Homo sapiens: one gene and its partner. The protein of the gene in region 2 purifies or fractionates together with the protein of the main gene of each other region. This does not show direct contact. Each region holds a gene or a part of one and is shown on either strand. Other genes may lie near its edges.

Region 1 (4,587 bases), on a different chromosome or scaffold from region 2:
TGACCGCCATCAAGGAGAGATGATGAAAAGCCCACCCATCTCCTCCCTCATATTCACAGCCCCATTAACTACCTGGCCACGGGCCAACCTTCTCTCCAGGACCCTCCTCTCCCTGCCCTGGCTCCATCAGCTTGGGTGAGCCAAGCTGTGGCTTCTCTTTCTCATCCTGGCCCTTGTATCTCCACCTGATAGCGTGCCAAGCTGGAGGCTGCTGTGGCTGAGGCAGAGCAGCAGGGTGAGGCGGCCCTCAGCGATGCCCGCTGCAAGCTGGCTGAGCTGGAGGGCGCCCTGCAGAAGGCCAAGCAGGACATGGCCTGCCTGCTCAAGGAGTACCAGGAGGTGATGAACTCCAAGCTGGGCCTGGACATCGAGATCGCCACCTACAGGCGCCTGCTGGAGGGCGAGGAACACAGGTGGGGCTAAGAGGACTTTGTGGGGTTTCAGAGGTGGAGGCTGTGGTCCTCCAGGAGTGAATTTCCTTGAGCTGAGTGTGAGCTACAACTCTGGCCATGGCTAATACAATAGCTTCAATAATAATAATAATAATAACTGAATGCTTCTGTGCTAGACCTGTGCTAAGTGTTTATTTTATAATCCTCACAATCCAATAAGATAGATATGGTTTTTCCCATCTTTTTATCTTTAGATAAAGAAGCAGGCTCAGAATTCAGTGCCTTTATCATGGCTACGCAGTTAATAAGCAGAAGAGCTGGGACCTGCACCCAAGTCTCATGCCTCCCAAATCCGTCCTTGTTGAATAGCTTCCTACTGAAGCTGCTGCCACACAGGCCTGTGTGTTATGATGATGATGCACTTCTATATGCATTTAGCTCTTCATCAACCACAAAGCCCCTTCACACCCTGGTGTATCTGATTCAACTCTCCTTCCTGTGAGCTTGATTGGCACCATCCAGGCTGGCCACCATCACTCAAACTAGGGGCACTGTTCATAATCTTACCCACTGCTGCTGAAAATCAGAAAGCCTTGTCTTCATGGTTAAAACCATCAAAGAAAGAAAGCATTTAATGCAGATTTGAGGGAGCCCTTCTTGCCTTTCAGGGGTAGACTCTGTACACAGGATGACCCTCTCTGTCCCCAAGCAACCATCAGTCTCAAGGAATCCAACTCAGTGTCTGGAACTAACAGAGTTTTCTTTCTCCATAGGCTGTGTGAAGGTGTGGGCTCTGTGAATGTCTGTGAGTATCTGCCTGAAATTCTCCTGGAAAAATGGCTTTTTTGATAGAAAAGCTGAACTCATTGGCCTAACCCATGGAGCCTCGAGTGTTCCCCCAACTGTTTCACCCTCCCCTGGCTCCTCAGTGGGGGCCATGACAGGTGTTAGAGAAAGCTGAGCTGAGTGCTCTTCGCAAGTGTTGACAGTGAGCTATAGGCCATGGACCTGTGGCCTGGCAGCTTTGCTCCCCGGGGTCCAGGGGTCCTCACTTCCTTCCTGCCCCAGTTCCCTAGATGGGCTGTGCATCTCAGGGACAGGGCCTGCATTGTTGACCACCAATTCCTTGGAGAGGGAGGCAGCTCCTGCAGTGCCCTGGGGCCTGTTGTAGGGTGGGTGAGATTGCAGGGAGCTGCTCACCCCTCCATGTCTCCTCTCTCCACAGGTGTCAGCAGCTCCCGTGGTGGAGTCTCCTGTGGGGGCCTCTCCTACAGCACCACCCCAGGGCGCCAGATCACTTCTGGCCCCTCAGCCATAGGCGGCAGCATCACGGTGGTGGCCCCTGACTCCTGTGCCCCCTGCCAGCCTCGTTCCTCCAGCTTCAGCTGCGGGAGTAGCCGGTCGGTCCGCTTTGCCTAGTAGAGTCATGGAGCCAGGGCTTCCTGCCAAGCACCTGCCTGCCTGCATCACTGCACTGAATGGCATGTGAATGGAAAATGTGTGCTTGCTTCCAGAATCTTCTGGATGTTCCTACAGAGGGAAAGACCTACAGAGGGAAAGACCCTCGGGCCGCTCCCCTGCGCCTTTTCATGCTAGGGAGATGCATCCTAGTTGTCCTCCTGGCAGCTGTTTTCAGAGGCATTCCCAGCCCTTCACTTAACTCCTACTTAGCTCCAAAATACCTGTATCCAATTTGTATTATTCCCCCAGCTCTCAGGGACAAGACCAGTCCCCCAGCGTGGTGGTCAGCACGGAAGCTCCACCTTCTGGGTGGAGGCGCCATCCTAACCATCCAGCCAGGCCACCCACAACCCGAGAATCAGGGAGAAAGTCCCTCCCCAGCAGCCCCCTCCTCCTGGCTGGGAAGAATGGTCCCCCAGCAAGCACTTGCCTGTTCATTCCTGTTCATGTTTTGCTTCTCTCTCAGACTGCCTTCCTGCTTCTGGGCTAACCTGTTCCAGCCAGGCTCCTCATGTGACCTCGCAGTTGAGAAGCCCATTATCGTGGGGCATCCTTTTGCCTACAGCCCCTGGTTAGGGCACTTTGGACAGGTCTTGCTATTCAGTGAACCTTTGTACATTTCAAAGAAGACTCCATGGCTGCTCCAGATGCCCCCTTGCTGGGTGCAGGTGGGGACTGTCCAATGCAGAGCTGGCGGGACAGAGAGTTAAGCCACTTCCTGGGTCTCCTTCTTGTGACTGTCTATGGGTGCATTGCCTTCTGGGTTGTCTCGATCTGTGTTTCAATAAATGCCGCTGCAATGCAAGAGCGTGTGGTCTTGTGAGCAACTTCTCCACTCCCTTCTTGCCTCATCTCCAGATGACCAATCCCAGTCCAGCCCCATGCAGTGTTTCCCCAGTCACCCCCCAGAAACTCTGCTGCTTCCTGTCCACTTCCACAGTCTGATTCCACTCAGTCGCCCTCAGTCCCCTCAGGCCTGGACTACAGCCCAGCTCCCCACTAATGACCTCTTTCTCCCTGACCCACCCTGCGTACTCCCAGCAGCCAAAACTCCATCCCAAACTCACTGCTCTCACCCTCTCCTGCCTGGCTCAAGTCACTTCCTGGCACATGTGTGTGCTTCTTATGCCAAATGCAGGCTTCCTCTGTCACCTCCTTCCCCAGCTACTCCTCAGCCCTGTCCAACCCCTCCATGCGGTGCTCATCCTCCCAGTCATGGACTCCACCCCAAGGAGACAAGTCTACCCTCTGAGGCAGCCCAGAGACACTCTCTCCTACATACCCCTTGTGGACACATAGGCCATCCCACATCCCTCCTCCCATTTGCCTTTGCTCAGGGCCCTCCTCTGCTCCCCAAAGCTACCACCCTCACCCCTACACCCCCCAGCCCTCCCCCGCCCCCATCATATAGTGTCTGGAACCCTGAGAATCTCTGGTTTTGTCTCTGCGGATCTGGGCCAGGGATGTCAACGGGTGTGTCTGGATCAAGCTGGAAATTCCATAAGGACAGGAAGTATCTCCTCCTGGCTCTGACCTCCCACTGAGTCCCAGGATGGGGCTCCAAGATATGCCAGGCCTGGGATGTGCTGGATGAATGCAGGCAGCTGGTGCAGCAGGAGGTAGAGACATCCAGTCCTCTTGCCCTCAGCTCCATCTCCCCATTAGCTGTCACCGTCATCAAGCAGGTGTCTGCCAGCCCCCTGCTGCCCCATCCTGCAGCCTCTTTCTCTGAGAGGAGAAGATAGGGCCTTGTGCATCCTCACTTTAGGCCCAAAGGGCTGTAGCCCCACTGGAGGCTGCTGGCTGCTTCTGAGTGCTTAGGCTGCTGCTCTGTTTGAGGTTTGCTGGCTGACACCTGGCGGGCCTCCTCCAGGTCTCTTGCCTGCTGCCTCCTTTTTCCCAGCTGTTTGGGCCCTGAGGGCATGGTGACAATCACAATAGGCCAACTTTCAATTTAGGGGACATCATTCACCCACAGGAAACGTTAAATCCCAGGGGCTGAAACATCAGGAAATGGAAATTTGAGCCCCAATTCTGCCAAGACTGCCAGGTCTCGGTGAGTCCTTGGGCAGGAAGTGGCTTTCATGCTTTGCATGTCAGTCTGGGGTCTATGAGATGAGTGGGTAGAGTCCTTACCAGGTCTGCTGCCTCCTATGGTTCTGAGATGCTACAGAGAGTCTATGCTTGGGGAAAACAGCTTCATGTTACCATGGATCTGGGCTGAGCAAAACAAAAATGCCAAATCTGATACCCAAAAAATAACGGCACCATGGATTGAAAAGTCAAACAGCCAGAACCTGGGAGATAGGAATGAATTTTTTAATACATTTCCGTGCTTTGTGTGCAAATACCATTCAACAGATTCAGCTGGCCAGAGGTGCCTTTTGCTTATGGGGAGGTAAGCCTCTGCCCCAGCCCTCCTTGCAGCCAACAGCAAAAACCCACCACAGCAAGCTCTTCTGGCTCAAAGGATGCTGGGGCTCCTGCAGCTCTCTCCTGATCAAAGAACTATTCCCCTCGGAATGCAAAGGGTACAGTCCAAGGGTAACTAAGGATTAACATTTTATTAGAAAGAAAAAATTCTGAAGAAGTCAAGTGACCTGAAATTGAGAGATCGAGGAAAAGCCAGAAGTTCAAGAGGCCCAAACAATAAAGTGGGCCATGGGAGTGATCCCAGATCTCTGCCCTGGGCTCCTTCCTGCTTAGAAACATCACAAACCAAGCTAACACCAGC
Region 2 (5,599 bases):
CGTGACAGAGCGAGACTCCGTCTCAAAAAAAAAAAAAAAAAAAACAAAAAACAAAAAACCAACTAAAAATCTATGTAGTACATCTAACTTTAATAGCCAAAAACCTAACTCCTGGGGACAAGGACTTCTCTATTCTTACAGTCCTGATCTTCTCCCCAAAACCTTGCTCTTCCAAGTCTTCCCAGCTCAGTAATTCACGATTCCATTCTTCTAATTTTTCAAGCCAAAAATCTTGGAACTATCCTTGATTCCTCTTTCCAACCCCATATCCCAATCTTTCAGCAAATCCTGTTGGCTTTACCTTCAAAGTATAAATAAACTCCAACCATGCCTCAACACCTCTGCCACCACCCTCTCCCCCAGAATACTGCAACTGCCTTCAACTAGTCCAAAGGGAAAAAAGCTTTTTTTCCTTTCTACTTATCAATCTAAATAAAAAGAAAAGAGAAGCTTCTAAAAAGAAAGTGACATTTATTCAGGAATAAAGTATTCCAATGGGAATACACATGCCATAGTAAACTGTGTGTGTTCAGGGAGGTAAGGGAAGACAAAAGGTTTTTAAAGGAAAATAAGGAGGATCACATACTTGTTTTGAGATAATTACCCTTGGCTACAAGGATCAATAACAAGGATGACACCCGTCCACAGATGGACCAGGCAGTTGCTGGGCAGATGTCCTTGCAGAAGTATTTTCTGTGTATTTATTTCATGATGTATTTTCTGTGTATTTCAGAAGTATTTCATGATGGCCTTTGTGCAAGGGTGTGGTTTTTGCAGAGTCTTTTGAGATATTTTGGTATTTATGCATGAAAGCTCTCTCTTCATAGCCTTTCCTGGATCTATTTGTCTTTTTTTTTTCTTTTAATAGAGACAGGGTCTCACACTCTGTCATCCTGACTGGAATGCAGTGGCACAATCACAGCTCACTGCAGCCTGGACCTCCTGGGCATGGTGCCGTGCACCCGTAGTCCCCCTCCCGGGTAGCTGGGGCTACAGACTCACACCACCATGCCCAGCTAATTTAAATTTTTTTTTTTGTAGAGACAAGGCCACACTATGTTGCATGGGCTGGTCTCCAATTCCTGGGATCAAGCAATCCTCCTGCCTCAGCCTCCCAAAGTGTTGGGATTACAGTTGTCAGCCACTGTGCCTGGCCAGTCAGGATTTTTTTTTCTTTTTTAACACAAGTGACTCCATTTTGATTATGACAATTTTCACATATTCTATCCTCCCAGCACACTTTTGTGACCAGATGTGTGGGGGCTTTTTCCCCACACCAAGCAATTCTCCAGAGGACACCAAATGGGTATCCTATAATCCAATTCCATTTGGATGTTATCTACCTAGAGACCATGTCAGATCCTACAGGTTGAGGGCTCAGTCCCATGACTCCCTCCACTTCAGATGCCAATCCCACATCCAGGCCACCAGTACATCTGACTGACTGGCTACAAAGGTTCCCACTCCCCCTTCTTGGGCATAACTAGTTTGCAAGGACAGCTCGCAGAACTCAAACAAACACTTACTTATGTTTATTGGTTTATCCTAAAGGATATTATAAAGGGTATAGATGAAGAAATGAGTAGGGCAAGGTATGGGACAGAAGAGGTATGAAGCTTCCACTTCCTCTAAGCATACCACCTCCTACACGGCACCAGCCCCCAGCAACCCACTCATTAAATCCAAATCTTGATATTTTTATACAGCTTGATCTCCAGCCCCTCCACTCCTTTCCTGGAGGCCTGTACGTGGGGCTAAAAGTTCTAACCCGTTAATTCTCTAATCATGTGGTCTTTCCAGCTACTTGCCCCATCTGAGGCTATCTACGGCTCCATCCTAAGTCACCACAATAGTATGAACCCCGGTGTTAGCAAACAGGCTCATTCTGAATAACAGGACACTCTTATCATTCAGGAAATTCCAAGACTTTTAGCTCTGTAACGGAAACCATAGACAAGGACCAAATATAATTCATATTATACTATAACTAATCTCCCTGCTTCAGGTCTTGCCCATTACATATATTTTCAACAGTGCAGCCACAGTAATGCTTTTAACACTGAAGTCAACTTATGTCACTCCTCTGCCAACATCTCTGCCATGGTTCCTGGTTTCACCCATAGTAAAAGCCAGAAAGCTTACAATGGCTTATAAGACCCTACTTGGTCCAGCTCCCCCATTATTTTTCTGATCCACCTTCTATCGCTCTGCTGCTTTCATTGCAGTAGCACAAACATGACAGGCAGCCTCCATTCTCTCAGGGCCTTCCTGGAACTTGCTTCCCCTGCCTAGAAAGCTCACTGCTCTTCACCTCTTTCAGGCTTTTGCTCGAATTGCACTTTTCATTGAAGCGTTCCCCTCACCATCCTATTTAAAATTGCAAACTCCCCCTACTTTGGCATTCCAGTCCCTACTGCCTTATTTTTCTCCACAGCACTTTTTATCACCTGACAGAAAAACACATACTTGTTCACTGTCTTTCCCACTCTATGACATAACTTCCTTAAGGGCAAGAAATTTTTGTTTTATTATTGTATCCTAACATTGTATCTGCAACAGTGCCAAACAGTGACACTCATAAAAAAAATTACTGAATATAAACATAAAGAAATTTATATTTGTAGACACGCCTGGGATTACTTTACTTCAAATTATACCCAGCATAAGTATCTATTAACAACCATGTGATTTAGTCTAGTATTTTCCAAACCTGGCTGATGATGATCAGACTCATCCTCAAATGTTACAAAACCACAGAATTCTGGGCCAACTCTATTGAATCAGCATCTGGGGGTGATACTCAGAAATTTATTAAAAGCACTCCAGGTAATTCTGATGAACTGCTAATTTTTTGCTGGAATAAACAGATCTGAAATTAGAAGTCTGTATTCCAACCACAGCTCTGCCACTGTATCAGGATCTTATGTTCCCAAACCCTCTGAAATCAATTTATTTTCTTATTCATGAAATAGGAATACAAATCTTGCAAAGTTCTGAGAATTAAAAGTGTATGAGACAGTCTCATAAACTGTCAAATACAATAAAATGTGGAGTATTACAGAATTTAATGAGCTGCTATATAAAAGCCGTACCAGTCGGTACAAATTACTATAATTCTAAAAGCGATTTAGAGCTTCTAAAAGGATCTTTTAGAATTTACAAGATTCTATACTCTCTTTAGTTCAGAGTATATATACTGGTTTTGGACTAACCAATTTCCAAAATACTCTTCCAGGTACATTAGAAATTCATAACTTTTCCCATCAGTTGCAAAGATAAACCAAAGAGATGAGAGAGTAACTACTATATGCTAATAGCTAACAAGGACCTCCAAAAGGTTAAAAAAAAAGAAAAAAACCTTGAAATGTATTTTCTCCTCTCGCAAATCAAATGGCAATAAAAACGAACATCTTTACGCAACCAAGTAAAGGTAGGTGGAAAAATAACATTGTATACCAGACAGACTTACAAACTGAGATTACATATTAAAAATCTAGTCTAAAAAACAAAAAATGAGTAAACTTTTAAAACAATTAATAAAAAAGCAAAAGAAAAAAGAAAAATCTTATATATACTATATAAGATTAATACTTTACCTGCAGATCCTCACACAAAAAGATAGATTCTTGAAAACTAATTCGGTAAGTCTTTAAGGCTTTTAACTTTCCCTTCTCTCTACAAGCAGGGCAATACTCATCTGATGGAACTTTAGCTGAATCAAAATTCTAAAAGAGAAATAAAGCAAATTAAAATATAGACATTCCTAGAATATATCAAAATATTAAAAGTTAAATGGAAAGGTAACCAGAAAAAATTATAATTTTCAATTACAAGTATCCTGACAAGGTATTTTAAACATGGCAAACAAAAGAAATGCATATAAGCCTTTAAATACAGCTATTATTCCAAAAAGAATTATGTTATAGTTTTAAATATTAAATTTTATGTGTTAAGAATAGTATCAATTTTATTTGCAAGGAAAAAAGTAACATCAATTACCCGGGAGAATTTATGTACCATATTTTCAAAGAACAGTAAATCATAAGGTCTATGTTTTATTTCCACTTTCATGTATCAATAAAACACAGAAAGGTAAACACATTAAAACAATCTTTCGCCATTACTGTAAGATTTCCGTGGAAGACACAATTTTTTAGAAGTTAACTGGTAACATCAAAATTGAATTTAAGTCTCAAAAATAGAGAAAAAAAAAAAACTTTGCACTCAGGCAAAAAATAAGTTCACTAACTTTTCCCAAATACCCCACCATGTGGAGTGAAGATATCCCTATATCAGTCCCTGGTCCAATCACTGGCAAACCATTTCCAATCTTCGGAGAATCCATCATTCCGAGTCATTGGCTAATTTATGTCACTTGAGACATGTCAATATCACTAAGGATTTTTTCAATGAACCCTGGAAAAAAAAAGTCAATAGACAATTAAATAAAAATTCTATTTACTATAAAAAAGAACCATGCTATTTTATAAGACGTATATAGTAAGCAGATTTTGAGGGCTATATGTCCTAGAATAAACATATTCTAAAATTATAATCTTGAAGTGAAAATGATACCTATATTTATAAACCCAGCAAATTTGTGAACAGAGGGTAGTGACTGGCAACAGGACCGGTTTTCATAGCAGACTCATTTGTCAACAAATTAAATAAAACTTGTAGTAGAGGCAGCTACTATTTAAAGCAAACTATATTGACCAGAATTTGAAAGCCTAACTTTTTAGAGTCTATGTACAATTTGAAACAAATATGCCAGCATTATACTGAGAAAAACCCCAGATCCATTGTGCCACTATTTGACAGGAACAAAAGAACCAGTGAACCATATATTCCATACATTCCTATTGTTTTCAACTACCAACATTAATACTTCACCAGTTGGGAAAAATACTACTTATTAAAAGCTGCTAACAAATTATTATTTGTAAATGATCTAATTTACACCACATTTAACTTATTTTGTTATCTGAACAAAAATATAAACACTGTCCTAGTACAAATTACATATGTGGCAAGCTTGTTTTGAGTGCAGTCCTATGGTGCAGAACCACATTTAACAGAGTAAAAATTACAAGAGACCGGAGCTCAGTGTAAGCAAAAAATAATTAAGAGCATTTTAATTGTGGGTTCACAATGATAGGAAAATCAAATACAGGAGACCTTTAGGGCAGAGGAGAATTACCACTTAGCAGAAATGTTGTAAAATAATTCTAGGCATAAGTCTTTCCCAAATCCAAGAATCCATGATTCTATGACACCCATCTCCTGGGAATCGATGGCTCACAATTCACTTTAAAATCTAATTACGCTATTCTGGTTCGGCTATATAAACTTCACAAACCTTTCAAGCCAAGGAATAATTTCAAAAATAAAACTGCTTTTTAAAGAAAGTATCGGCGAATCTTAATTTCCTATTCCTGAAGAAATAACCATAAGACAGAAATTTCTCAACTGCAGCACTACAAATATCTTTGACCAAATAATTGTTTGTGAAGGCTGTTCTATGCACTGACGATGTTTAGCAGCGTCACTGACCTTTACCCTCTAGATCCAACAGCCAAAAGTTTCCTGACTTGCCAAA

Evidence for each region. The genes of interacting proteins can lie anywhere in the genome.
Region 1: the proteins of USPL1 (region 2) and KRT85 purify together in Homo sapiens (affinity purification with mass spectrometry; one large-scale study listed by BioGRID and IntAct). This does not show direct contact.

What each region holds. Positions count from the first base shown.
Region 1 is NC_000012.12:52,358,077-52,362,663, reverse strand, and holds the end of KRT85 (keratin, type II cuticular Hb5), read left to right. Parts: intron 1-192; coding exon 193-413; intron 414-1,165; coding exon 1,166-1,197; intron 1,198-1,617; coding exon 1,618-1,811; 3' UTR 1,812-2,658; downstream 2,659-4,587.
Region 2 is NC_000013.11:30,619,890-30,625,488, reverse strand, and holds part of USPL1 (SUMO-specific isopeptidase USPL1), read right to left. Parts: intron 4,417-5,599; 5' UTR 4,349-4,416; coding exon 4,250-4,348; intron 3,726-4,249; coding exon 3,597-3,725; intron 1-3,596. UniProt on the Homo sapiens protein: SUMO-specific isopeptidase involved in protein desumoylation. Specifically binds SUMO proteins with a higher affinity for SUMO2 and SUMO3 which it cleaves more efficiently. Also able to process full-length SUMO proteins to their mature forms.